Linked DNA regions of Homo sapiens. The protein of the gene in region 2 purifies or fractionates together with the protein of the main gene of each other region. This does not show direct contact. Each region holds a gene or a part of one and is shown on either strand. Other genes may lie near its edges. The genes, in order: CD9, ITGA3 and ITGB5.

Evidence for each region.
Region 1: the proteins of ITGA3 (region 2) and CD9 purify together in Homo sapiens (affinity purification with western blotting; 3 studies listed by BioGRID and IntAct, with this or other methods). This does not show direct contact.
Region 3: the proteins of ITGA3 (region 2) and ITGB5 purify together in Homo sapiens (affinity purification with western blotting; 2 studies listed by BioGRID, with this or other methods). This does not show direct contact.

Annotation. Positions count from the first base shown.
Region 1 is NC_000012.12:6,201,525-6,212,528, reverse strand, and holds part of CD9 (CD9 antigen), read right to left. Parts: intron 1-11,004. UniProt on the Homo sapiens protein: Integral membrane protein associated with integrins, which regulates different processes, such as sperm-egg fusion, platelet activation and aggregation, and cell adhesion.
Region 2 is NC_000017.11:50,051,570-50,059,109, forward strand, and holds the start of ITGA3 (integrin alpha-3 preproprotein), read left to right. Parts: upstream 1-4,540; 5' UTR 4,541-4,870; coding exon 4,871-5,076; intron 5,077-7,540.
Region 3 is NC_000003.12:124,875,740-124,886,743, forward strand, and holds part of ITGB5 (integrin beta-5 isoform a precursor), read right to left. Parts: intron 6,122-11,004; exon of another isoform or gene 6,104-6,121; intron 2,951-6,103; exon of another isoform or gene 2,864-2,950; intron 1-2,863.

The DNA.
Region 1 (11,004 bases), on a different chromosome or scaffold from region 2:
GACAGCTACAGCCTGGGGGTGCCACCACCTTGCTATGCCTGGCTCGTTGTGTGTAAATGTTCGAGCCTGGCCTCAGGCTGGTGCAGGCCATTACTTTACAAGAGAACATTCCCTGTGGGAGCAACAGTAATGCAATGCATGAGAGGTTTCCCAGGGAGGAGACTAGAATTACACTACAAGGCCCTGCTGCCCCTTCTGATTCTTAGTGGGCTGCCTTAGAGCCTGAGAGCTAGTTAGAATCATCCCTGTGAGAGATGAAGAAACAGGCTCCGAGAGGTAAAGCGACTTGCCCGTGGTCACAGAGCAGGCATGAGTGACCCAGCTGTCAGCACTCTTCCTCTGACGGTGCACAGCACATGCCATGCAGAGATCGGTTACTTGCTGACCTGTCTCCTCCCTGATAGAAGGGAGACAGCTTGGTCCCCTCTCCAGGGTGTGGCAGAGGATGAGGAACTCCGTAAGCTTTTTCTCAGCATATCTTTCTGGAAATTAGGCAGCTACCTGGTCTGAACAAGTTCGAGTTGAGAAATCTTCCCTCCTTTCAAGGACAAAGTCAGCATCATTTAAAAACCTGGAGCCCTTCCTCTGCCCTGGAGAGGAGAAAAGCTTCAGTGAAGTGTACTGGCGTTAGGATGTTGGGGCTGATTGGGAGGGAGGCCCCAGCCCAAGGTAACCTCTTTCTAAACAAGAAATCCCATTTCAAGTTTCCACTGCCTGCTTGCCAGACGCGTAGCATACACTGGCCAGCCCATAAATCCCTTTTCCACTGAAAGCAGGCATTCTGATCTTAACCAAAATCATCTGATGTGGGGGATTGTTTTGGATGTTTTGCTTTAAATTCCAGAATACCACACATTTGTTTTCCGTTGTGTATGCCTCGCCGAGCTGTCTGGCGATGACTGCACACACTCTTGCTGACACACTCTAGCCACTTGCAGCAGCTTGCTCTCATTCCATCTGCAGAGTTGGCCGCCACGTGCGTGCGTGGCCCTGAGTGGTGGGAGATGCTCCTTCCTTGACAGTTTTCAAGCAATGCCAGGTGGTGCCTGGAGTGGCAGGGTCGGCTAAAAGCACTTCCGGCACCGCTTGGTGGAACGGCCCTCCTGCTCCAACATGGGATCTTGCAAACCCCAAGCCAGCAAGGGAGGCCAAGATCCCCAAACTCTTGTCTAACCTATCAACCTGCCCTACCCCTCTGCCAGGAGCTCCTTCTTCATATTAGGTCACCTAATTACTAGCAGCAAGTACTCAAATATTTGCTATCTATGTTCCACAACCCCACCCTAAGCACTTCTCCAGAACTATTTAGTTTTCAGAATAGGCCCACCAAAGAGGTAATATTGTCTTCTATTTTTTAGATGAAAAAACTGGGGCACAAAAGTTAAGTTGCTCGGGCCGGGCACGGTGGCTCAAGCCTGTAATCCCAGCACTTTGGGAGGCCAAGGCGGGAGGATCACAAGGTCAGGAGTTCAAGACCAGCCTGGCCAACATGGTGAAACCCCATCTCTACTAAAAATATAAAAAAATAGCCAGGCATGGTGGTGCGTGCCTGTAATCCCAGCTACTTGGGAGGCTGAGGCTGTTCAATCGCTTGAACCCAGGAGGCAGAGGTTGCAGTGACCCAAGACCACGCCACTGCACTCCAGCCTGGCAACAGAGCGAGACTCCTTCTCAAAAAAAAAAAAAAAAAAAAGTTGCTCAACTGAGATCACAGGGCAAGTAAGTGGCAGAGTTAGAACTTGAACCCAGAATGGTCTGACTGCAGAGCCCCAATTCTCAATTATTTTGTTAAGCTGTTTGTGTTTTTGATCCATTTCTTCTATTCTGAAGCCAGAATTTTTTCCCTTTTGCCTGTTTCCCCCCCATTCATATCTAATCCCATTTCAAAGTGGTGTTTTCGATCTTTAAAGGCCACAAGGGAGCCCATCTGCACCGGAAGGAAGGCAGCTTGCAGACGCGCCTCCTCCCTGACAGCAGGGCAGCTGCATGGCCACCTGGGCTGGAGATGCCACCTACACCTGGCCTCGCTTGGGGGCAGTGGGGGTAGTGGGTGCTCGAAGAGAGTCTAAAAAAAACAGCCGGTGCTTCCTCTCCCTGGCCTTTGTCCTGAGAGCTTCAGCCACACCCTTGGTTCCACTGGTCATATAGTCAGGGTGGACAGAGGCGGCGCTCTGGGAAGGGACTCTCCAGGGCAACTCGCACATCCTCCTTTCCCCTTGGCTGCACTGTTGCAGCTGCCCATTGGCATTGTGTCCATAGACGGGACCGCAGCCCGTTCAGTGGCCATGGTCCTTCCATCCCCCGTGAAAACAGCCCCAGAGTGGGACCCGGAGCCTCTGCCCTTCCCCAGAACCACCCTGCCAGCAAAGGGCAGAACAAGATGACATCAGCACAGGCCTCTCTGTGTTATAGCCCTGGGCACGAGCTCTCAAGACACACCCCAGGGTCCTAGAGGAGAGTGCCAGCCTCCCATGACAAAGAAGGCCAAAGTGTCCCTCCTCATCCTAGAAGATAATCTAATTTCTATTTGAAATGAGCAGTCCCAGCTGGGCGCGGTGACTCACGCCTGTAATCCCAGCACTTTGGAAGGCCGAGGTGGGCGTATCACCTGAGGTCAGCAGTTCGAGACCAGCCTGGTCAACGTGGCAAAACCCCATCTCTACTAAAAACACAAAAATTAGCCGGGCATGGTGGTACATGCCTGTAATCCCAGCTACTCAAGAGGCTGAGGCATGAGAATCGCTTGAACCCAGGAGGCAGAGGTTGCAGTGAGCCGAGATTGTGCCACTACACTCCAGCCTGGGCAACAGAATGAGACTCCATCTCAGAAAAAAAAAAAAAAAAAAAAAGAAATTTGCAGTCTGGGTCTCTAAAGGGTTGTGTCTTAGGGAGCCAGGGCTACAATTTGACTAGAGAGGAGGAAAGGAGAGTATGAAGAGATTTTCTCAGGCTTGTAGACAGGAAGCTTTAAAACATCTGAGCTTAGCAATAATAAATTTAAATCCACAGTCCCACATTGTGAGAAAGAAGATGTTTACATTGCACCATGGAGAGCAGGAGGAATATGTCTTAGTGGGAAGGGCCTCCCGTCTCTAGGAACGGGGCCGCTGAGGGAGGTATGGATGACTCCCCACCCAGAAAACATCCAGTGGAGTTGGGCATAAATCTGGGGTGTGCATGCACACTACACACTGCAACTGCCCACCTACAAGGGAAGACATGATGTGGATTCAAACACCAGATTTCTATTGACTTGAAAAGCTACGACGAGCCCGGTGCGGTGGCTCACGCCTATAATCCCAGCACTTTGGGAGGCAGAGGTGGGTGGATCACCTGAGGTGAGACCAGCCTGGCCAACATGATGAAATCCCATCTCTACTAAAAATACAAAAATTAGCTGGGCGTGGTGGCATGTGCCTGTAGTCGCAGCTACTCAGGAGGCTGAGGCGGGAGAATCACTTGAACCTGGGAGGCAGAGGTTGCAGTATGCCAAGATTGCGCCACTGCACTCCAGCCTGGGTGACAGAGCGAGACTCTGTCTCAAAACAAACAACAAAAAAAGCAATGATGAGTTCACAAATAGTATGATTTTGCTGATCATTTCATTTAGAGTTTTAATAAATCAGTACACTGTATTATCATACTACATTCAATCAACTTAGGTTTAAAAGACATTAAACTACACACCTGTAATCCCAGCACTTTGGGAGGCTGAGGCGGGTGGATCACCTGAGGTCAGGAGTTCAAGACCGGCCTGATCAACATGGAGAAACCCCGTCTCTACTAAAAATTAGCCGGGCATGGTGGCACACCCCTGTAATCCCAACTACTCAGGAGGCTGAGGCAGGAGAATGGCTTGAACTCAGGAGGCGGAGGTTGCGGTGAGCTGCGATCGCACCATTACACTCCAGCCTGGGCAACAAGAGTGAAACTCCACCTCAAAAAAAAAAGAACAAAAACAAACAAACAAACAAAAAAAACTAAAATCCTTGAATAGGTTTTGAATTAATAAATTCATAATTAATAAAACTGCCTGATTAACTTTATGGTATTTTTAGCCTCAGTCGAGGTTCTTCTCCTATGACCCATGTATTGTGTTGTTTCTGAACTTGGAGACTAACACACAGCTTAGACTGGGAGTGTCAGCAAGGGACTGGCACCTGAAGCTGTGAAGCTCAGTTCCGAGGAGAGGGCTTGGCAGGAGCCACCAGCTGCTTAGCCTGCTCAGAGGTGTCACTGGAAACTTGGATGTGCATTGGGTAAGCTGTGAAGGGTTACTTTTCTTTTCTTTTTTTTTTTTTTTTGAGATGGAGTTTCACTCTTGTCGCCCAGGCTGGAGTGCAATGGCACGATTTCAGCTCACTGCAACCGCCGCCTCCCAGGTTCAAGCAATTCTCCTGCCTCAGCCTCCCAAGTAGCTGGGATTACAGGCACCTGCCACCATGACTGGCTAATTTTGCATTTTTAGTAGAGAGGGGGTTTTTCCATGTTGGCCAGGCTGGTCTCAAACTCCCAACCTCAGGTGATCCGCCTGTCTCGGCCTCCCAAAATGCTGGGATTATAGGCGTGAGCCACCGCGCCTGGCCTGAAGGGTTACTTTTCTAGCAGAGCTCATAAGAGCCACTATTTCTTCCCTCAGGCACAATGCCTGGCTTAAGGATTGAAGAGGAAGGGCTCTTAAGACCCGGGTTTCTGATTTTTCTCCAAGTCAGTAGTCCCCAAACTTCTCTCTACCGGGACCTCCTCTGGAATCACATTAATCCGGGCCCCTCTCCAAGTCAGGCTGCTTTGCCTTTCCCAGTTACTCAACCAGGCTGCTTCTCAACTCCTTGGGAGTGCAGCTCCCCAAATGATCCCTCCTGAGACATTCCTCCTTTCTGCAAGTCCTCAGAGGACGAGACTTTCCGTCTGCATTTGGAGGGAAGGAGAAGAGAGACAGACCTCCTTTCTTCCTGAACAAAGATGAAGCACCAAGCTCTGGGAAAAGCTAAGCCAAGAGGCCCAACCTGGCTGGAAGATCATACAGTTGCATTTTTCGTGTGTACTAGAAATACAGAGCACTCATTAAATTAACCGAGTGAAAACCACTCCTTAGGCAATGATTAAGCTGAGAGTCAGAGGGATGGGTGGGAGGCCAGCTGTCCCATCTGAGCTGCACTTGATCACTAGGGAATTTATCATTTCTAATGCCTTTCACAAAGTCCCCTGTGATGCCCCCATTGCAGCCCCCGGGGAACGGTGAGGCAACCTGCTTCTTATGGCAGAAATATGGGACTCAGGACAGAGCAGGGGTTGTCTGGAAACTGAGGGAGAAAAACCAATATGGGGCATTTATAGCGTGAGCTCAGGCTGGGCGTGGTGGCTCACATTTATGATCCCAGTGCTTTGGGAGTCCGAGGCTGAAGGACTGCTTGAGCCCAGGAGTTCAAGACCAGCTTGGGCGACATAGAGAGACCCTCTCTGTACAAAAAAATTAGCCGGGTATAGTGGTGTGTGCTGTAGTCCCAGCTACTTGAGAGGCTGAGGCCAGGATTGTGTAAAGCCCAGGAGTTTGAGGCTGCAGTGAACTATGATGGTGCCACTATACTGCAGCCTGGGCAATGGAGAAAAAGGCAAAAAAAAAAAAAATGTCTATGGGCCTCCAGAAACAGACATAACATTTTTCTGGAGGCAGGTCGTACTGATTCCAAGGAATTCCCTAAAAAGGAATTTCCCTAAAAACGTTAAGATGTATTAGTCTAGGATGACAGGATATAGCACTTAAAACTATCCACAACTAAGTATTTTTGGAGAGGCGGGGGGAGGAAATTACCAGATAGATACAATTATTATAAAATTATCACAAAAAAATTATCTCATCTGGGGACAGGATGTTGCTTTCTACGGCTGCATGCCATCACTTGATGGAAAATGAGAATGTCCCTGGACCAGCATGACTTTTTCCATGGAATAAAACAGGCAAGTAATCTGTAGTCAGGCCTTAAAACATAAATTTAAGAAATGTAGGCCAGGCGCGGTGGCTCATTCCTGTAATCCTAGCATTTTGGGAGGCCAAGGTTGGCAGATCGCTTGAGCCTAGGAGTTTGAGACCAGCCTGGGCAACATAGTGAGATCCTGTCTCTACAAAAAAATTAAAAGGTTAGCTGGGTGTAGTGGCACATGCCTGTAGTCCCAGTTACTCAGGAGGCTGAGGTGTGAGGATCGCCTGAGCTGGGAGGTTGAGTTTGCAGTGAGCCATGAGCCATGATTGTTAACACTGCACTCCAGCCTGGGTGACAGAGTGAGCACCGTCTCCAAAAAAAAAAAGAAAGAAAGAAATGTATAAAGACTAGCCCCCGCCCCCTATTCCCCTGCATTTTTTTTTTTTTTTGTCTTCTGAATTTCCTTCCCAGTTGCAAAGGATTTTTCCTGCTCTCTGAGGCCATGGGTCTGACAGGCTCTCACCCAGATTTTCAGACTCTTAACAAGGAAGTCGTTGCTCTTCTGTGTGTATGGGGTAAAGCCTGTTTCTGCAAGGCTTTGGTTGAAAAGACCTGTGGTGGATCCAAATAAAGTCCCGCTGACCCCAACCTGGGGGAGGGAGGAACACAAAACATAAACATGCAGCTTCCTCAAACTTCTCCACTCTCCTTTCCCCAGCTCCACACAGGTCTGTCTAGAACATGCTGCCAGTAGGACCACAGAAGCTGTGGTTGGGGTGACCTCAGGCCCCCTACCCTCACAGCCAGGCTCACCCAGGTGAGAACCACACCCAGGCAAGAACCATCAAGGTTTGTGTTCTTTAGAAGAAAAGGCGCCTTTGTCAATCCAAGGTATTATTAAGTTCCAAACCCAACCCTGCAACCAAGTCCAAAAGCTATGCCTCCTTATAAAATTGAACAGAACAGGAAAACAAAAACAAACAAACAAACAAAAGCAGACAAAACAAACACAGGATCTATGTGTGTAAGGGGGAGATTCTCATCCAACACTGCTCCTGGAGGAAGGGGTGAGAAGGCTGATTTGTGAGCCCAGCAGCCGCAGAGGGCTCATCTAGAGTCAGTACTGGCAGGGCCCCAGAGAGGGCTGCATATCAAAGCACTCCCAAATTCGGGCTGGAGCCAGCAGCTGCTTCCTCTGAGCACAATAGAGCAGGGTCTGGAATCGTGCTGTGGGCCACGTTGAAAAGAAGGGGGTAGAGAACGTGAGTGTGAGCGTGTGCAGAGGAATCCTCACCACCATCAAAAGATTGGGTCTTTGTTGTTCACACCCACTGTGGGTGTAGGGGAGAGACCATCAAAATCCTGGGCAAAGGAAGCAGATACCTGGCCTCAGCTCACCTCTCCCCAAGCCTGCCAGCTTCAGTGCACGTGTAGCCAGCTTCACCCCAGCGCAGGCTGTCTGGGCACTGGAGGTGGGAGCCATTTTATGCAACAGTCCCAGCAACTTGCTTCTGGGGGAAAAGGCAGACCATGGGGAGGGGCTTTTGCCACTGCCACCCAACTTGTCCATGCCCTGCCCAGATCCGGAATCCTGATCCTTAGGGTTTCTCTGACAGGCAATTTTATTTTCAGAAGCGGGGCCTTCCCGCAGCCAAATGAGCAGTAGCAACCCATGAAATGGAGTCAGGGTTTTGATGCACAGGACAAAGTTGGCACTGATACAGGAAGGGGCAGGGAGGCCAGTGTGTGGATTGGGAGGGTCCTCCTGGCCACATCTGCGGTTTAGACTTCCACACTTCTTAGAGAACTGCTCTCACCCTCCCCAGGGCCTCATTCTACTCTCCACTAGTGAATAACAATAGCTACTGTTGGAAGATATGTCTGGTGCAATCTACTATGCTAAGTGCACTACACATACTCCCCATTTAACTCTCACAGCACCATGTGGGGTGGTCACCAGCCCCATCTGGTGATGAGACATGGAACCCAGGACTGGTGCTTTGATCACTAGGCCAAGTACTAAGGTATACGGGCAATGAACACCCCTGAGAGAGACCCCACCCAGGGTGAGGAGAGGGAACTGAGAAGCAACAGCAAAGAAAAGCACCAGCTGGGCTCTTGCTCCAGAGGTAAAGGCCAAGAAAAGCTAAGTTCTGAGGACTCAAGCCTTGGTATCCATCTCCCATTTCCAATTCAGGGCTTGTATTTTGTTTATTATATTATTATTTATAGATTTAGGGGACACGAATGTAGTTTTGTTACACATGGTGAAGTCTGGGCTTTTAATGTGACCATCACCAACATAGTATACATCGTACCCAATATTGGTTCCTATTTTGGGTTGTGTAGGAGAGTTCTATTGTTGTATGTGGTATGTGTAGGGGTGTTGGGTTCATAGACTGAGCTTGAAAGGACCTTTTGAGACCATTTGTTCCAAGCTATTGTTTTACAGATGAGGAAACTGAGGCTTAGAGCACAGAAGTGACCAACCCAAGGTTTCAAAGTGAGTTGAGGACAGAGCTGGGCTCACATCCAGGTCTCTGAATTCCCAGTGTAGGTCTCTGTGTTTCGCACCAGCCTCCCCTAGGTCTAGGGGATATGGTTTCTTGGGAAAGAGACCTCCCAGCCCCACACTGCTGTTTCCATCAGTGAGCGAGGCATGAGAGACAGTAAGCAAAGGGGCTGAGGGAGGTGGGGAGGGGATTGGGCTCTGTCAGTATAGCCAAACCTTTCCCTCTTTTGCCCTAAGGAGTTCCTCCCCTTCTCTGACCAGAAAGAGGGCAGACATGCATGTGTCAGACTGGACTGGCCCTAACCCTGGTTCCCCATTTCAGCTGGAGAAATACTTGTGTGTCTACCACATGGACATCAGCAAGATGTTTTCCCTCTCAACTGTTTTTTGGGGGGTGGGCAGGCGGGCAGGGAGGTCTGAAGGAAATGTAGAAACAATCAAAATAGAGCTAGGAGGGCCGGTTCTGGAGGTGGTGGAAGAACAGACTGATTTGCTGGTTTGGCTGTGGCCATCAGGGAGTGACCCACAGGGATGAGATCAGGCCAGGGAAGAGGCACAGCCCCCCAATAACCATCCTACTCCACTGAGGTTGGCCTCTCTCTGGATGCCTGTTGGACACCCCCTCTCAGCAGCCTCTGTGCAAAGTGCTGCTGGGCACTGGCCTCACAATTCCTGCTTTTCAAGGCCCACATCAGGTTCCGAATGCCAAGTTTATAAATGTCTGGTCTCAAGAGAGAAACGGACGTGGTGACAACATAATCACCCAAGCAGTTCCCTTAGGTTACACCTTTCCTTAAGGGAGTCTTGGGAGCTTCTTCCCACCCTTCTCCCATTCCCACTCAGCAGCCAAAACCAGTTGGGTAAAGTAACCTAGTTCTGAGACCACCCTGCCGCATCACCTTGGATAAGTCACCTAACCTCTCTGGGAAATGGTTTCCTGATCATCAGTACAGTGGGGACAATGCTTCCTGCTCTTGGCTACATCATGGGACTAGAACAAGAAAGGCTCTAAAGACTAACACTCTGCACAAGTGGACCGACCACAGTCTTCCTTTTCATTACATCATCTCCTAGGGATGAGGGCTTCATCTCCACAGGGACCCAGATACAGGACAAATGAACAGTAATTCAGGAAAACATAGCTACTGCCCATCTTCCTGCCTCTGATGAAGATGGAAGAGGACAGAAGTAAAGTAGGGGCCCCAGGAATTGTAATACTGGCTCTGTCTCTGCGATCCTGGGTAAATCACCCCATCTCTCTTCCTCTGCTGCCTCACTATGAATAAGAGAGCTGGACTGCATGATCTTCAAAAGTCATTCCAAACATTTCCAGTGTGAGTGATTTCTGTTTCAGACTACATAGGTCATCAGCTGCACCTAGGCTGGGGCCAGGCATAGGGGGTTCTGAATACGAGTGGGGTGGCAGGCTGAGGACAGTACGGACAGATTGCAGGCCAGCAGGCCACAGACAGAGTAGATACCAGTGGCCCTGTGAGCCTCGCATCAGCTTCCTGCATATGCCATGGGGCAGATGGGGGTAGGGAGGCACACTGTGGCAGTCTGTGTTTCCCTGCAGTCCCAAACCTGGATGCAGTCTAGGCAGACAGCTGAGGACTAACCAACACACCAGCCGGGAGAGACTGTACCTGGGAGGGGAGAGGAAAACTCCCAAAGTTCAAGGGTGGGTGAGGCCAGCTGCCTTCCCGCATACTTTTCTGCTGCCAGGGATTGGTGAAAGAAAGAAGCTAAGCGTGGCAGCTGGGTGGTTGCTGGGGTGGGTGGCAACACAGGAGGAGGGGTGCCCACGGCCAGCAGGGTCTTTTTAAAGCAAGTCAAGGGTTGGGAAGGAGCACACCTATATGCCGTCCTCACTGGGGTGTGTGTTATGGTGACTGATGCACTGGGGGAAGTCAGTCTCTGCAAATTGGAAAAACTGTTCAACCACCCCTTCAGCTCTGGGGAGGAGTGAATCTTAGAAGATTTCCCTAAGGAGGCTTGTGGGGACCTCAGTGACCAGCTCCAGGGGGAATAAGTGCATTTGTTTCTTTTCTACTTTTTTTGAGACAGGGCTCACTAGGTCACCCAGGCTAAGTGCAGTGGTGCAATCATGACTCACCGCAGCCTTGACCTCCCAGGCTCATGCCATCCTCTCATCTCAGCCTCCTGAGTAGCTGCGATCACAGGTGCATGCCAACACGCCCAGCTAATTTTTTATTTTTTTGTGGAGATGGGGGTCTCACTATGTTACCCAGGCTGGTCTTGAACCTGGATGAAAGCGATCCTCCTGCCTCAGCCTCCCAAAGTGCTGGGATTACAGGCATGAGCCACTGTGCCTGGCCAAGTGCACTTTTTTGTTACAAGACTCTGGTGGCATGCACCTGTTTCTACATCCATCTATCTTGAGAGTGGCATAGAGACTCTCTTCCTGCCTGCAGAGCGGCAAGTATTGTCATGTGTGTGCAGGGAATGTGGCTATAGAAACAAGGACACAAGGGTTTCCTATTCCTTGCTTCTGTCGCCTCTCAGCCTTCCCATTTGTAGAGGCTGAGTGGCCTGCAGCAGGTGTCTCTG
Region 2 (7,540 bases):
TCAGCCCTGCTCCTGCTCAGCCCACTTCTTGGCCAAATTATTACAGTAGCTGCCTTCCCCCACAACCCAGTCTGTCCTGGCAAAGTCAACTTCATGTGGCAGCCAGAATGTTCTGACAGCCCCCTTTGTCCCACAAGCACCACCCCTAACATACAATGCAAAGTGGGTTTAGCCTGTTTAAATGTGAGAGCAACCAGAACATGAGGCCACATCCTGGCCTCCTCTAAGTCATCCCCGGGTTGGGACTCAGCCCAGGATTGGTACATAGTAGGCTGTCAATGAATGCTTGAGCCTGGCAGATTCTGAGCCAGGGGAATCGCCTGGACTAGGCCTGCATCTGGGCCATAGGAGAAGGAAATCTGATAAATCCATTCAATCTTCAGCACTCCTCCCTCCCTCCCTCTTCAGTAATTTGCATTTTCAATTCAAGTCAGATAGACCCCTGAGTCTCAGTCCAATAGCTGAGATTTGGTACACTTCGTTGAACAGATATTAGAAGGTTTGGGATACAATGAATGTAGATTGGGGAATAGTGAGAGATTTCTCTCCAGCCCTTTCATTTCACACATGGAGAAACCGAGGCCTGGAACGGAAGGTAACTTGCCCAAGGTGAGAAGGCAGAAGAGAGCTTGCATTCAACGGAGGGGCACACCATTGCAATTCCTTGTTATTTTTCCAGCAGCTGCCTGTGTGCTTCACGTCTCTGTGCTGATCTGCCCGAGAGGTGATGGTGTCCATTGGTGTGCTCTGGGGCTCTGGGAGAGTGAGATGAGGGCTGGGGAGAGGGCAGGTAGAGGAAGACTTGTGGGAACACAGCAAGCGCTAAATAAACAGAAGCCGCCTTTGTGGGATATTGACATTGTCATTGTTCCAGCTGGGAAAACTTCACCTGAACCAGGACCCAATTTTTCTGCCTCTCTTCTCCAGCTCCTTTCTTTCCCTGTTGTCCAGATACACCTCCTCCAGGGAGCTTCCATGACCCCCCAGCAGAACTCACCATTTGCATGTTGTTACGGTCACCTGCAGAGGCAGATGGATCCCATCCAAGGTTTGGTTTGAATGAAGACTGACGACACCACCCAAACACCAAGAGAGTATGAAAAGGTTTATTATTTACATAATTGAGGTCTCCAGGGGGAGCAGGGGCAGTCTTTCAAGCAGGTCCCAGATGTGTTGGGAGAGCCAGGAAGGAGACTGGCCTGGGTTTTTATTGTGGTTGAGGGGTGAGGGTTCCCTCAGGAAGGGGCTTGTGAATATTCCCCCTCAAACACCAAAGGAGGGTGCACCCAGACTTTCTTATCAGCTTGTCCAGGTGTAGGGCACAGAGAAGAGGGAAGGGTGAGGCTTAAAATCTGTCAGCAAACATCAACAAATGGACTTAGACTCCTCATTACACATATTATTCCTGTGTCCTTGTTTCTCTGTCTGTCTGTGTGTTTCTAGGTGGGTCTCTTCCCCATGGGGGAGGGTTGACAGATAAAGAGTTGACATGATAAAGTCAACTGAGGGATGAGATGATCCTACAGACGACGGTGCCACTGAAACCAAAGAACCCTGAGATTTCTCTTTCTCCATCTCTCCAGCTGAGATCCTTCTAGTCTCCATGTCTCCCTCCACTCCCACTCCATCTCCCCAGACTGGTCTGACACTCCCCCACATTCTTTAGCTCAGGCCCTCCCCCTACCAGTCGCCCCTGCTCTGCTCCACATTCCCTCTGGACACTCCCCTGGAGTGGAAAAACCATCCCTCATCCCTTTCCGGCTCCCAGTCCCAGGATCGGACATGCTGGTCATTCCTGTTTGGGATGTCCAAAGAGATAAGGCCTGGCATGGGGCCAATCTGTCATCGCAGGACTCTCAAAGCTGTTTCAGGCAGGATCCTCACCCACATGGCGTTTCCACCCTAAGCCCCTGCCCTTCTTACCCTGGCTGGCTCCTCTTCTCCAGGAACATGGCAGAGGACTCAGGAGCCAGGCAGAGAGCAAAGATCACTGTTCAACTTCCATCCAGGTCAGCTTCCTGTTCCTTGACCCCACATGTCTTCTAATCCCTGCAGGCCCTGGGCCACAAAGCAGACCATGAGAGAGGCTGGGTGGCTCTGGAAGTCAGAGGTCAGGAACAAATCCTGTTCTAAGGGCCGTTAGAGACAAGTGTCTTCTCCCCAAACACCACAGAGAAAGCTGTTATCACAGCTGCTTTTGTTTAGGCATGTCTAGCTGTCTGACAACCATCTGCCTGGAGTTTGTCTTCTTAAAGACACGGTTGTGGTCAGCGGCTTCAGTCCTAGCTCTGCCTCCCATAAAATTCAGATCTTGGACAGGCAGGTAACCTCCTGAGGCTCTGTTTTCTCCTAAGTCAAATGAATATCATAATCCCCACCTCACAGGGAGGCCAGGAGGATAAAATGAGCCTGCTTGTGAAATGATTTGTAAACTGTAAAGCTAGGCCAGGACCCTTTCCCAGGCTCTGAATCTAATTTTGTACTCATAATTCTTATGAGTACAAAATAATTTTATTCTTAAAGAGCACCCCAGATTGCACAAGCTTCAGGACCCACCAAACTTGGACACGCCCAAAGTAGTGTATAAATGTTCATTATTAGCATAAGTAGTTAAGGGCTCCAGGGTCAGATAACACAGGATGAAAATCCTAGTTGTGTGACCTCTGCCAAATTGCCTAACCTCCCTGAGCCTCATTTTTCTCGTTTTAAAACAGAGATAACACTTCAAAGATTGTTGTGAGGATTTAACATTTGTGAAGCATTTAGCATAGTTCCTGCTGCGTATGTGCTTAATACATGGTGTTTTGTTCTTATTATTTTAAGAATAGATGGAGAAAAGAATGCTCGGGGAGGCCAGGCAGGGTGGCTCACGCCTGTAATCCCAGCACTTTGGGAGGCGGCGGGGTGGATCACGAGGTCAGGAGTTCGAGACCAGCCTGACCAACACGGCGAAACCCCGTCTCTACTAAAAATACAAAAATTAGCCGGGCATGGTGGTGGGCGCCTGTAATCCCAGCTACTCAGGAGGCTGAGGCAGGAGAATCGCTTGAACCCCGGAGGCAGAGGTTGCAGTGAGCGGAGATCGCGCCACTGCACTCCAGCCTGGGAGACAGAGCGAGACTCCGTCGTCTCAAAAACAAAACAAAACAAAACAAAAAAACAATGTTCCGGGGAAAATGGGTCTCTGAGCTGCAATAAGAGAAATGTGAGTTAGATCCAAGAAAGTACATAGTAACCTCTTTTTTTTTTTTGAGACGACGTCTCACTCTGTCACCCAGGCTGGAGTGCAGTGGCGCGATCTCGGCTCACTGCAACCTGCGCCTCCCGGGTTCAAGCGATTCTCCTGCCCCAGCCTCCCAAATAGCTGGAACTACAGGCGCCCGCCACCACGACCGGCTAATTTTTGTATTTTTTTAGTAGAGACAGGGTTTCCCCACATTGGCCAGGCTGGTCTCGAACTCCTGACTTCGTGATCCGCCCTCCCCGGGTTCCCAAAGTGCTGGGATTACAGGCGTGAACCACTGCGCCTGGCCAGAGTAACCTCTTGAAGTTCCCTTTCGATTTGATTCCTTGGTGGAGGAGACCTTTAGTCTCCGCCCACTTACTGCCACCTGGCCCTACCCACCAAACACCTGATGGGTGCTGACGTCCGAGCCCAGTCTCCAAACACTCTGTTCGAGCTTGGGTGGGAAGAGGGAGCCTCTGGGATTCTGCTGGGCTGGGCCCTGAAGGCAGGAGTGGACGAGAAATGGATACGGTCTAGGCTCAGCTTCCCGGCTACGCAGTGCGTTCTGTGAAGGACGGACTCATTTCTACATTGACAGTCTTAGCCTTTGATACCAGAAGTCGCAGCACTTAGGGGGAAAAATGCTTTTTGGTAATTATAATTAGCGACATTTGGTTGTTACCACTGCTAAATATGTCTGTCTTTGCTGAGGAGCCAATCTCAGCTCGGATCAGGGTGAGTGGATAGGAGAAATAAATCTCGGCAAAGACAGCGAGGGGCCTGAGTGCGAGGAAGAACTCCCAGAGACCGCCAGCCACCTCTTGGGGACTCACAGCGCTGCGGAGGCGAGTCCAGCATTCTAGCCAGCCGCGCACGGACGTCGGTTCCCAGATGCGCCAATGCCAGGTCTCTCCAGCCCGGCTGGCCTTTTCAGCAGCAGCAGCAGCAGCCGCAGGAAAGCGGCCAGACAAATCCCACCCCCGGCCCCGCCCGTCACATCCATCTTGCTCCCCAGGCGACGCTTTCTCGGAGAAGCGAGGGGCGGGGAGGGGAAATCTAAGCCTTTGGGGGTTGCCGACAGGTGTTTGGGGGAGAAGGCGGAGCTGGGGTAGGGAGGATGAGGAGGGAGGGGCGGTGCTGCCCCTTTAAGAGGAGGCGGCCGAGCCGGGATCTTTTTCTCTTTCCCCGGAAGGAAAGCGCAGCCCGGGCTGGGCTCGCAAGGTGGGGAGGTGCGGGACTGGGCGTGGGGAGGCGGGGCGCGCGCCGGGGGACCCCTCCCTCCTGTCCTCCTTGCGGTCGACCGGTGCGCTTGCCAGATCCGCCGCGAAGCCGGGATCGAAGGCGACAGCGCGGCCAAGGGGGCGCGGCCGGGACAAGCTGGGGGCCGGTTGCCCGGGGCAGGGACGGCGGCGACCCGGCCGCTGGGGAGGCAGGAAGATAGACCCACGGATCTTAGGAAGGGATCCGAGAGCGCAGCTGTGAAACTGGCTGGGGCTGGGGGCACGAAACCGATCAGCGCTACGGAGCGCAGCGGCCGGCGGGTTCCAGTGTCCTCCGGCGGCGCGGGGAGCAGGTGAACAGGTCCTCACGCCCAGCTCCGCGCCCTCACGCGCTCTCGCCGGGACCCCGCTTCCGCTGGCAGCCATGGGCCCCGGCCCCAGCCGCGCGCCCCGCGCCCCACGCCTGATGCTCTGTGCGCTCGCCTTGATGGTGGCGGCCGGCGGCTGCGTCGTCTCCGCCTTCAACCTGGATACCCGATTCCTGGTAGTGAAGGAGGCCGGGAACCCGGGCAGCCTCTTCGGCTACTCGGTCGCCCTCCATCGGCAGACAGAGCGGCAGCAGCGCTACCTGTAAGTGAAGCTGGAGGGTGTGGGGTGGGAGCGAGAGAGTGTGCGAGCGCGGGATGCGGGTCCGGAGCTGAGTCGGAGCCCAGGGCAGCTGGCCCTTGGGAGCCAGGATTAAGGGGCGGCCCTCTGGCTGCTGGGGGTTGGCGGGAAGTGGAGGATTGGGTGTGGGGTCGGGCAGTAATCATTGGCAAGTGCTGACGGGGCCAGAACCTGTCTGGACGCCACCCCTCCGCCCTTTAGATCTCTCATGAGAGCGGAAGTGGGGTCCCGGTGGCTGAGTCCTCTCCCATTCTGTGAACCGAGTACCCAGCACTAGCCTGTTCTCTCCAGGGCTGGGAGCTGGGGTAAACTGCAAGATAAACACCCAGCGGACTCCCCCCTTCCCGTACGCTTGGGGGAAAAATGAGCATATACATTTAAGCACCTCGCTGGTAGTCTGCGGCCACGCCAGCCACACCCTCTGCAGAGCCAGACTGGATGGCCTTCTCAACCGCTGGCTTGGCGGATGGAGGGTGAGGCGATGGGTGAGTCTGGGCGTTTGGAGCTGTCCATACGCTCCCTCTGACGCCTTGAGGATAGGGGCGGTGAAAGAGAGAGGAGGACTTGTCCCAACTCTGGCTGGGTCTCCTCCTGCCCACCCGCAAGCAGTGGCACTCTCCCCGCAGACATCTTCCCTGCATTCCACAGATTCGTGTTGGATCTTCAACCCTGAGTGTGTTTGTTTTGGTTTGAAGAGGGAAACAGTGTTTTTCTCTTTCTTCTGTTCTCCTTCCCCAACAGCTGCAAGGAGGAGGGGAAGAGCTATGCACAGTGGAGGAAGGAGGAGGAGGTTGCACCCAGCCTCCTGGGTCCCCCTCACTCCACCAGACGCCCTCATGCCCAGGAGCATGTCCAGGCTTCAGAGGTCTCTCTGCCGTGGCCTCAGAGCGCGCGGAGGTTGGCGGTTGGGGGAGGTGAAGCTGTCCAAAGAGGGACGGTGTTTAGGACAGGTTAAGCAGGTACCATCCACCACTTTGGGCTGGGCGATCTGCCAGGCATCTGCCCCCACCTAGCCTCTGCCCCCACCTGGCCTCTGACCCCACTGAACAAGAAGACGTGGTCACATCCAGGGTACACTGGAAAATCTCCCTGCTCTGGCTGGGGCCTGCAGAGCTTGAGGAAGTTTAGAATGTCCAAAGTCCAAACTCTGCCCCCGCCTTGGTTCTGCCCTCCTGACCCAGCCTACCTACCTGGACTTAACCTCAACTCCATCTTGCTCTTGCAGAGGCTAGGGCTACCACACCCTTCCCAGCCTGGCCCCAGCAGCTGCCACCTGGCCTTAGCCAACCCTCTATCTTTTGGAGATCCTGAGCCACCATGAGCACAAGTTTCTACATCAGCTCTTTCTGCCCTAACTGAGAAAAAGATTTTCAGACTTTCAATGCCAAATCTGCATGATATAAGATAACATAGGTAAAGAGATCAGACTGGAAAGAAAGAGTCAATAATGATTCCGCAACCCTTTTGCCTGGTGACCTTGAGCAAGATATTTCCCCTCCCTGGGCCAGGTTTCCCCCAAAACGGGTTGGACCTGGATCTAGTGCTCTTTCCCACTGCTGCTGGCCTGTGAGAAGCAACTTGATATGGTAGAGGGAGAAGAGGCTTGGAGGTCCCATGGCCAGTGTCCTGTCTCAGATCTGTTACCAATACCTGAACCTGAATTTCCGCACATGTTGGAGGGAGGGGAACAGCATGCCTTCTGCTGGGATGTTAGTGGGGCTGTAACGAGATAAAGTGCGTAAAATCCTCTGCACATGTGCCTTTCTCCAAGGAGCACCTGAAGGCTCTTGCGCTGAGGCCAGAACCTGGATGCATCCTCATTACCCATGGGCCCCGCCCAGGGTGGCTGAGCAAAGGGGTTCTACTTTTCTGTCTGGGAAGCTGGAGCTGGCATTCAGCCTGCCAAGAGCCCAGAAGGTTCTAAAGCTAATGAACCTCTGAGGGGCAGTTCTCTCCCTTGAGTATCCTCAGTCTTTCCTAAGGGTGGTTCTGTGTCTTGGCCCTTCTCTTCATCTCACTAAATTCGACCCCTCGGCCATTTGGGAGAGCCAGCTGGGCTTAGCTGCAGCCAGCTGTGTAGCCAGATGCAAACAGCTGCCTGAGTGCACAACTCAGAGGAACTAACTAGTAAGACGAGCTGCAGCCTCATATTCTGTTAGCCTGAAAGTCTCTTTGGAAAAGTGGGATGGTTCGTGGTCTTGGACAGGCTCTTAAACTGGGGTTCGTAGAAGGTTTTCAAGAGATGCAGGGACTCCCTGAAAGTGTACCCAAAATCGTAGTATTTGTCCACTGCCCTGGGGGTGGGAGGAGGGGAGAGCACAGCTTTCTTGTTCTCCATTCATAAGGCCTCAGAAATGGTTAGAAACCCAGGGGTGGGACCCTCTTTGCTGCCCCATCACCTTCATCTCTGGACTGGGGTTCCTGGTCC
Region 3 (11,004 bases), on a different chromosome or scaffold from region 2:
ATGCAATCAACAGACAGATGAATAAAGAAAATGTGGTATTTTTAAAAAGTGGTATACACATACAATGTAATCTATTCAGCCTTAAAAAATTGAGAAAATCCTGTCATTTGGGACAACATGGATGAACCTGGAGGACACTATTAAGCGAGGCACAGAAAGACATACTGCATTATGTCACTTATACGTGGAGTGGAAAAAAACTGAACTCAGAAATACGGAGAGTAAAATGGTGGTTGCCATGGCTGGTGGGGTTGAGGTGGGATGGAGAAAGGCGAGATGGTTAAAGGGTACAAAGTTCCAGTTAGAGAGAATGAATAAGTTCTGGAGATCTATTGTGCAGAATGGTGAAAATAGTTCATAATAATGTATTGCACACTTGAGAATTGCTAAGAGAGTAGATCTTAAATACTCTCACCACACAGACACAAAGATAACTATGGGAGGTGATAAATATGTGAATTAGCTGGATGGTAGTAATCACTACAAATATATACATATAATAAAACATCATATCATATACTGTAAATATACACAATTATTTGTCAACTACCTCCATAAAGCTGGAAAAAGAAAAGAAAAATTTAAAAAGTAAAAGAGAAGAAATGCCAAAATAGGGGTTAAAAAAAAAACAAACCAGTATCTTGCAACTGGAACATTTCCCTAATTTGCTAATTTTAACTCCCTGCTTCTCCTTTGTCACTAGCAGTAAAAACTCACAGAAATCGCAAACGGCAAAACTGCTGACTGGCAGAGGGGTGGGTGCAGGAGGTGGTGGTAGGGGAAGGAAGCTTTATCATGTCACCCCAGGGACTTTAGAAGGAAGAAATACCAATTGGCATAAGGATAGTAGCTGGGACCAGAGGGAAGGGAGAAACAGGCAGAAGCTGAGAGGCTAGGAAGAAAGGAAGAGAGGCTTTGAGAACCCACAGGGGGTGAGAACAAAGGTTTCCACCAGCCCTAACCCTGAACCCTAGGCCTCCTCATCCTTATCTACCTCACCCAGGGAGGCCTACAGCAGGAGGATCTGAGGCTGCTGGGACCCACCCACCTTGCCTGACCTCACTTCAGCAGGAAAAGCCATCCAGGGCCAAATGTGGACGAAGAAGGTCTGAGAACACAACCTACTGGGAAGCTGGACCTGCCTGTGTATGTGCTGACAACCTCCTAATTTTAAATGAATTCACTCACTCAGTGAGTTTTCTTTTCTTTTCTTTTTTTTGATTTCTTGTTTGTTTTTTTTTCTTTGTTTGAAACAGGGTCTAGCTCTGCTGCCCAGGCTAGAGTGCAGTAGTGTGATCATAACTCACTGTAGCCTCAAACTCCTAGCCTCAAGTGATCCTCCCACCTCAGCCTCCCAAGTAGCTGGGACTCCAGGTACACATCACCACACCTGGCTAATTTTTTTTTTTTTTTTTTGTGGTGGAAGACAGGGTCTTGCCATGTTGCCCAGGCTGGTCTCAAACTCCTGGGCTCAAGTGATCCTCCTGCCTGGGCCTCCCAAAGTGCTAGGATTACAGGCGTGAGCTACCACACCTGGCTCACTTAGTGATTTTTAAATAGGCACTTAAGCCTTTAAAAACAAAAGTGTGTGCAGGAAAAGAGTTGCAAAATGTCAGTCCCATTTTTTGGTCAAATCCCCGTACCTGTCAGCAATCACTATCTGCAGGGGAAAAAAAATAAATCTAGAATGAAAGTAACTTTGCTCCTCCTCTCCTCAACCTTATCAAATACAAACTCAGGCTCGTTGTGGCATATCCTTTTCTTTGATATATAAAATCATTTTCATAAAATCATGAGATTATAGCACCTTGGGGCTAGGATTGTTTTAAGATGAGCTAGTCAAGTTGCCTCTTTTTATAGATGAAAATGTAAGATAATGAGAGTATGTGACTTGAAACAAGGAGCCCTATCTACAAAAAAGAGGTCAGACGGGGTCCTGACCAGCAAGTGCCCACATGGGATACCTGCCTGGTGGTCCCTCTGCCATCTTGGATGTAGGGCTGGTGTGACCTGCTGAGCTCTAGGGTCCTCTGGAGATCTGTAACAGCCCCTTTATCAGAAAGGAATTTGAGGTCAAAGGCCTCACGTAGGACTCTGATCAAAGCCACATAATTTTTTTTTTTAGACAGAGTCTTGCTTTGTTGCCCAAGCTGGACTGCAGGGGCATGATCTTGGCTCACTGCAACCTTGCTTCCCAAGTTCAAGTGATTCTCCTGCCTCAGCCTCCTGAATAGCTGAGATTACAGGCATATGCCATCACGCCTGGCTAATTTTTGTATTTTTAATAGAGATAGGGTTTCAGCATGTTGGACAGGCTGGTCTTCTGACTTCGACTCCTGACTTCAAGTGATCTGCCCACTTCAGCCTCCCAAAGTGCTGGGATTATAGACGTGAGCCACCGTATCCAGCTTCAAAGCCACATACATTTGCAAACAACACTTTATAATTACCAGAGCCTCATCATGAGCTCTGGGAACTTGGGCTGGAGGTCCAGGGCTCAGGACAATAAGAGCTCCTCAATTCTGATGCAGATCAGACTGAGCTCTGGTCTTCTGGTCCACCAGCCTAAAAGCCCTTACTTAATTGGACACAATACCAAAGAAACTCAAAGGATGTGATAGTCACCTGGTATGAAAACATCATGAACAACTGTAAAACAATTTGTCATATAGCATTACTAACTGTTTCTGTTATTATTAAATATTCACATGGAAAAGTAAAGTCGTTTGTACTCAAAATGATTGCCCTAAAATTCAGTTGCTGTTGGGACACATTCAAATTCAAGAAACTCTGCACTTAACACACCCTAAACGCTGAGCACTGGACTGGGGGGATGCTAGAAATGCACAGGTGAATGACCTACCAGCCCTTGATGTCCAGGAACTCACAGTGTGCCGGGTACCAGGTACCAGACAGGTACTCCAGGATCCAAAACCACAGGCTGTGTGCTGGTATGTGTAATGTCAGACTCACTCCCTTTGGCATCTCTCCTCTCTCCACCTATTAATATTTCAGAGTTTGGACTTTGCTGGATGAGTCATTTGGCACCAATAAGCATTTTGAAAAGGAAGGAAGCAATGAATAAAAAACTAAACACACGGAGTTCACAAATGTCAGTGTTAGGTCTAGGTCATGGAAACAGGAACTAGCAGCCCAGATGATAGCCACATCTCATCTTCTTTGCTGTTTGCATAGTGACTATTCCCAGCTCGGTGGCAACTCCATGTATCTCTTTTGCCTCACGTCTCTGAAGCCCAGTGTTTACTGCAAACTGTAATCTAAAAATATGTTCTTCCAAAATTCACTGACTCACCCCTGTGTTTCATCAATCATTCAAGGAGCCACCGCATCCGGTTGATCACTCCTTTCAAGATGCAAGAAATGTTTATCCTAAGCCAACCCTTCCTGTCTGCAACCTCTAGCCCCAACAACCCAAGCCAGGCCCTCTGGTCTAAATTCCTGCCATAGCCTCCTGGCTGGCCTCCTTCCATTCAGCCTCTCTCCACTTCTGTACACCCCATGGGTCCAAGGTCAGACAACTACTACTAAAACATACATCTGCAGTTGGAATTTCCTGATCCAAAATATTCAGTAGGATAACAGAAGTGAATACAGAAGCTGAAATGGCCTTTCTGCCTTGAAGATGGCAATGCCCTGGAATGCTTCTCCCCACACCCTGAACCAGGCCCTCACATTTGTCACACAATGGACAAAAGAGTCCCAGTATAGACTCCAGCAACTAAATAGCCATATGTCTAAATGTTACCATGAAATGCAAATATGCCCTAGGAAGGTTCTATCCCAGCAGTTCTCATTCAAGACTGCCTTTATGAACATCAGACATCTGCACAACACTCAACAATACCAGCCTTACAGATCTGACTTCTATTTTTAAAACACCAATTCATATAATGGAGTGCTAGACAGCTATAAAGAAAGAATGAGCATGCTCTCTGTATTGACAGGAAGCTTACCCCAATACATCGCTAAGTTAAAAATAAAAAGCAAGATACATACTGTGTTTTGTGCTGCCTCTGAATAAAAATGAAAGAGGGATATTCGTAACATATCCATAGAAACCCTCAGGATACATAAGAAAGCTTATTAGCTTTATAATAGGAACTATATAGGCACAATTTATTTAGAAAAGGGGGTCACAGAAATATCCCACACTGATGGGCAACAAGAAAGAGAGGCTTCTCGCTTGATATGAGTTATACTTTTAAAAATTATGGGACTATATTACCTATCAAAAGGTATTTTTTTAAAGAGGCAATTGATTACCTCTATGTTCTTCTTCCAAAATCACCTAACTCTGTCTAATCACGGGAAAAAATCAGAAAATCCCAAGAGGGGGATGATCTACAAAATATCTGACCAGTGCTTCTTAAAACTGTCAAGGTCATAAAAAACAAGGAAAAGACTGAGAAACTGTCACAGCCATGGGAACCCAAGGTGACATGACAACTCAATGTATTGTGGTATCTTGGATGGGATCCTAGAACAGAAAAAGGACTTAGGTAAACACTAAAGAAATCTAAACTGATGGACTTTAGTTAATAATAACATATCAATATGGTTCATTAATTATAATAAAGGTACCATACTAATGTAAGATGTTAATAATAGGCAAAACTGGGTGTGAGGTAGATGGGAACTCTTTGCACTATCTTCTCAATTTTTCTGGAAATCTAAAACTGCTCTAAATTCTTTGAAGGCTTTTTTAAGGGCCAGGCACACTGGCTCACTTCTGTGATCCCAACAATTTGCAAGGACCAGGTGGGAGGAGCAGTTGAGCCCAGGAGTTCAAGCTACAGTGGGCCATGATCACGCTAATGCACTCCAACTTGGGTGACAGAGCGAGATTCTGTCTTTTTTTAAAAAATAAATAAATAAATAAAAGAGACACCGGGCACAGTGGCTCATGCCTGTAATCCCAACACTCTGGGAGGCTGAGGCAGGCAGATCACCTGAGGTCAGGAGTTCAAGACCAACCTGGCCTACATCGTGAAACCCTATCTTTACTAAAAATACAAAAAATTAGCCAGGCATGGTGGCACGTGCCTGTGATCCCAGCTACTTGGAAGGCTGAGGCATGAGAATGGCTTGAACCTAGGAGGCAGAGGTTGCAGTGAGTCAAGATCACACCACTGTACTCCAGCCTGGGCAACAGAGTGAGACTCCATCTCAAAATAAAATAAAAAAGAAAGGGAAAAAGAAAAGAAAAAGTACATATGTAAAAGTTTGTTTGTTTGTTTGTTTGTTTGAGACAGAGTCTCTGTCTCCCAGGCTAGAGTACGGTGGTGTGATCTCAGCTCACTGCAACCTCGGCCTCCAAAGTTCAAGCGATCCTCCTGCCTCAGCCTCCTGAGTAGCTGGGATTACAGGTGCACACCACCATGCCTGGCTAATTTTTGTATTTTTAGTAGAGACTGGATTTTGCCATGTTGGCCAGGGTGGTCTCGAACTCCTGACCTCAGGTAATCTGCCTGCCTCGGCCTCCCAAAGTGCTGGGATGATAGGTGTGAGCCACCCTGCCTGGCCAAATCTTTTAAATAAAGTTTTTCTAAGCCCATTAAAATCCTGGGGTGAGAGAAGGGATCATCTGAGTACCAAGCATTGTGGCTGTGTCAGGGACACAGGTAAATAAGACCAGGGCTATTAACCAGGTAGCAGGTGAGACAGACCAGCTGCAGCCCCCAGTCTCTCTAATGGAATGGGCCATGAAAGCAGGAGGAGGAGGAGATAGTTCTGCTCCACCCAGGGATGTAGGGAAGGAGAACAGGATATACTGGGTATAAAAGATCAGAGGACTTGTTCTGTCACTTATTGGTTATGTGACCTAGGGCAAGTCACTTAACCTTTCCAGGCCTCAGCTTCCTCATGCAAACAACTCAGGGAGTAGACCAAATGGCCTCCATACCAGCTCAAAAAATCCTAACACAAAGCCAGGAGTGGTGGCTCATGCCTGTAATCCCAGCACTTTGGGAGGCCAAGGTGGGCAGATCACCTGAGGTCAGGAGTTCAAGACCAGCCTGGCCAACATGGTGAAACCCCATCTCTACTAAAAATTAAAAAATAAGCCAGGTGCGGTGGTGTACGCCTGTAATCCCAGCTACTCGGGAGGCTGAGGCAGGAGAATCGCTTGAACCTGGGAGGCAGAGGTTGCGGTGACCAGAGATTGCACCACTGCACTCCAGCCTGGGCAACAGAGTGAGACTCCAATTAAAAAAAAAATCCTGACACATTCCAACAGAATCTCTTTCTCCCAGGATGTTTCTTCCTAACAAGCCGCATGCATAGTCCCTGACTTCAAAGCTAGCTGTGGAAGGCAACAGGGAGTTGAGGACGGGATGCATCGCCCTCTTCACCTCCCAATTACCAAGATTCAGGTTCATCCATTATTCATTCAACAAATATGTGCCTGGTGCTGTTGTAGGCATGGAGGATACAGAGATGAATAAAACCAACAAGACTCCCTTATTCACGGAGCTCACATCCTGGCTGGGGGAGAATTCTACTTAGGGGAAATAGTGAAGAAGATATGTAGTTACATTAGATGGTGGTGAGTGCTAAGGACAAAAATTAAAGAAGAAAAGCAGATAAAAAGAACTCGGGATATAGGGAGGAGGTTGCAGCTTTAGCTGGGAGCGGCCAGGGAAAACTTGGCTGAGCAGGAGATGCTAGAAAAAGGGTTGCAGGGTGGAGGAAGCCGGTCATGCAGATATCTTGGAGGACAGTATTCCAGGCAGGGAGAAGGGCTGCCATGGGAGCATGGCTGGCACGCTGAAGGGACAGTGGGAGGCCCATGCTGCTGGAGCAAAGGATCGAAGGGAAAGTGGTGAAGGAAAGTCAGAGAAGTAGGTGGAGAGTTCGTGGAGCCTGGCAGGACTCTGGGAAACCATTCGAAGGTTTTAAGCAGAGAGATATGATCTGACTTGAGTTGGATCTCAGGATCACTCTGAGGGACAGTTGAGAATAACTAAAGAGAACAAGTTGCAGAAGTAGGTCCCAGCTCTACAAGAGACAACCAGCTCTGAAAATGTCTGGCTGGAGTTGGGGAGGGAATCCTATAAAGAGAGGGCAGGGTACCCCGCAGTGCCTTCAAAGCATCAGCCTTAGGGGATGAGTCAAGCCTGTCTTAGAGCAAACTTTTCACCATGAGGCCCGGGAAGTAAACCCTGCATTCAACGGAAGCAAGAAGCCTCAGAAACAAATGGGTGCCTCTAAATAAAGCATTCCTTTACATTTATAGAGGCCATTAATCCCATTCGAACCGGAAAGAAGGAAAACAAACCACGGCAGTCAGTTCTCCAAGGCCCTCGGCTCCAGCCAACTGGAAATACCTGTGAAAAGAGACCCTATCCCATTAACCCAGCTGCACACTGCCATGTGAAAGGGGCCCTATTATTTAAGTAGTTTGTAATTGTCCCACATTACTGATATCGTTAAAGCATCTCAGAATATTTCCATGGCCAGGCTGAATAAGAAAAAGTAGTTACCAGGCCACGCAGGCACAAAAGGCCTTTTGCCAAACTACTTAGATATTTTAATTCCCCGTTGCCTCAGTAGCTAAATAAGCATGGAGAACAAGCAGGCGGGGAATACTAATTAGAGCTAATTAGACCCTGCCCTCTTCTGCCTCAATCCCCTTTATAAAAAGCTCCCCCAACTCAAGGATGATGGAGTTAAAATGTAAATCCATAGGATAAACAGCAGTCTACAGACCAAACCCACTGTTTGTATTTCATTGTCCTGTCAGCTCTAAACCTGTGCCTGGTTACCTACAGAGAGCTGCAGACCCAGCCAAATTCCAACAACCCCATCACAGACCACAGGAAATGTGGTAGGGGGTTGGGGGTAGAGGAAGGGTGCTGCCAACATGAGTCCACTAAATAAAACAAAGGGCTTTCTTAGGATGTGCAGAGCATTCACTAGAAGAACATTCGATTGCTTTTTTAAAAAGAAATGAATGTGATAGCACACATAATTCCAGCGGTGTTGCAGGATCCTCTTTATAAGACGGTGTTCCTCTCTCTGTCTTAGCAAAGGCAGCGTGGAAAAGCCTCACCTCAGTGAGACCCCTGGTTTTGTGGGAAGACCACATCCTAGGATTCTGTCTGAAGGCTCTTGGCCATAAGATAATAAAAAGAGCAGGAGATAGCCCTTGGTGGGGACGGGAGGGGGTTGTCAGCCGGCCAGGGACTTGTTTGAAATGAGCCCCTGAAACCTAAGGTCAGTTTCCTGCTGGAAATCCGTACTGAGATGAAAGTGGGGTTAGAGCAACAGAGAGAGGCACTCAACCACTGGTCCAGGAACACCCAGGCAGGCATGGCCCTGAGGGTCATCTCTTTCTTTTCTCTGAGTAACTAGGTTTTTTTCTTTCAAATAATGTTCCTAGTGGCAAGACAGAAACACTCCCTGAATAAAGTACCTGTAGTGCTTCAAGAAAACAAAGAAGGGAAGGGAAGCAAAAAAAAAAAAGAAAAAAAAAAAGAATGTTGAAGTTAATTCAGCAACACTGAAAAACTAGGAGAAATGACACAGATGTGAGTCAACCTCTGCTAATCCTGAGAAGCTTCAGGGCCCTAAGAGGTAAGCAGCAAGTTCTGGAGGCCAGTGCCATGGCTTGCTCCACCACCACCACCACCAAAACCTGTAGTCAAAGAGATGGGCAGAGGCCAGCCGTGGTGGCTCACACCTGTAATCCTAGCATTTTGGGAGGCCGAGGCGGGCGGATCACCTGAGGTTGGGAGTTAGAGACCAGCCTGACCAACATGGTGAAACCCTGTCTCTACTAAAAATACAAAATTAGCCAGGCGTGGTGGTACATGCCTGTAATCCCAGTTACTCAGCAGGACAATCACTTGAACCTGAGAGGCAGAGGTTGTGGTGAGCTGAGATCATGCCACTGTACACCATCCTGGGCAACAAGAGTGAGACTCTGTCTCAAAAAAAAAGAAAAGAAAAGATAGGCAATGGGAAAACAGGACCCCAAAAGAGTTGCAAATGAACCACCATGCTCAGTGCTTTTCTCTTCCTTAAGCTGAGTCGGTAGGACAAAGGGCACTGGACCAAAAGCCATGGTCCCTGGTCCACCACTCCTGACCCAAGTAGAGGGGAAGGGCAAGTCACTTCCTTCCTGAGCCCATATGAGAAAATGGACATCACCGTGAAGATGTACGTGAACTCTGAAAAAGAGAAAGCAAGATGCAAGTGGAAAATAATGTATTTTTAGAAATTATTCGCAGCCAGGCGTGGTGGCTCATGCCTGTAATTGAAGCACTTTGGGAGGCCAAGGCAGTTAGATCACCTTAAGTGAGGAGTTCAAGACCAGCCCAGCCAACATGGTGAAACCCCATCTCTACTAAAAATACAAAAATTAGCCGGGCATGGTCGCAGCGCCTGTAATCATTGCTACTTGGGAGGCTAAGCCAGGAGAATTGCTTGAACCTGGGAGGTGGAGGTTGCAGTGAGCCGAGATGGCACCACTGCACTCCAGCCTGGGCTACAAGACTGAAACTCTGACTCAAAAAAAAAAAATTATTTGCAACTAGAAATTATTATTATAATTCTGTTTGTCAGAATTACAGAATGTCAAGCTGGAAAGGAACTTAAAAGCCATCTCCTTTGGCAGTTTCTGAACTTTTGGATTTCAAAGAAAACTAAGATTTAAAAACAAAACAAAAGAAACAAACAGAAAAAGAGAAGGGGAGCTTAACATAGGGTTGTCAGATTTTCTTATTTTGCCAAAATTAAAAACTACTAATATTATTAAGAAGTATTAAAAGAAAATGTTCCCACCAAAAAAAGAAAAAGTGCCTAATTTCAAACTAAAGGAAAGTCCTTGTGGAGCAGGGGAGCGTTGACAACAATACATTCCTGTGTGATGCAGGCTACATCTTCCTGCTCCTCGCTTTCCCTAGGGACCCATGAAAATATCCGTGATGGGCACTGGCTGCCGGATGGGTGTTTGGAATCCACTCATCTACTCTCCAAGCTCTGGAGTGATTATTTTCCCATTTAAAACAAAAACCAAAAACCTTGCTACAGTATTAAGTTTGAATTAGGGTCTGAACGAAGTTATTGTTTGCTCAGACCCCTCCTCCGCTCTTAAACCTAAACCTCCACTGCCTTCATGTAAATGAGACACCGTGGGGGAACAGTCCTCCCTTCGGGCAGCCAGGCAACCACTTGGCTCACAAGAGCAATCAAGTATCTCCGGCTTGAAAGTTAATAGAGCACTATTATTTCCTAAAAGAAAGGAGAAAATCCGCATCCCAAACAAGTGCATCCTTCCTCGAGGGCCTCCAAACTACCACGTCCAATCATCTCCCAACTCTGAAAAGTTAGAGCAGGTAACCGAGGGATCCTTGCAACGCTGCCAGCCCACCGCAGCGTCGGGCTAAGGCAATCTCCACAGCCCCTGTCCTCTGCTCCAGAATCCTCCACAGTTAGGGGAGTGTGAGGCTCCGAGCGTGTGCAAATCGCGGGATAAAGTCGGGCAGAAGGAATTTAATAGGGAAGTCCCAGGTGGGGCTGTGGTTTGGGACGCGGGTGCCCCCTCGGGTTTGCGGTGGCCTAGGCGAGGAGGAAGCAGGCGGGGGGCGGGGAGGGTGGGGGCTGCATCTTCAAAGGCAGGCGGCTAGCCTAGGCGCAGCGAACTCCAGGATTCGCTGTGGGCCCTGTGCACCCGCTGTTCCAGGAGGCGAGCCCTCCGGAGTGGAGGTGGCCCCGGGCTTTGGCTGGGGTTTCGAGACTCCCTTGCTTCTCCGGGAACAGGGCACCGACGGCATCCCCCCAGCAGCCCGCCCGCTCCCGGCCGGCCACAAGGACCGCTTTGTGCCCGCCAACGGAGAGCCCGGGCCCCAAGGCAGGGCTGGCGGCGGTCCTCCCCGTGCCCTGGGCGCGGGCCCTGGCGGGCTAGGTCAGCAGGCCGGCCAGCCTGTTTACACAGGAAGGGAAGCTCCTCCTCAGCCCGGGAGGGAACAGGAGACTCACGAC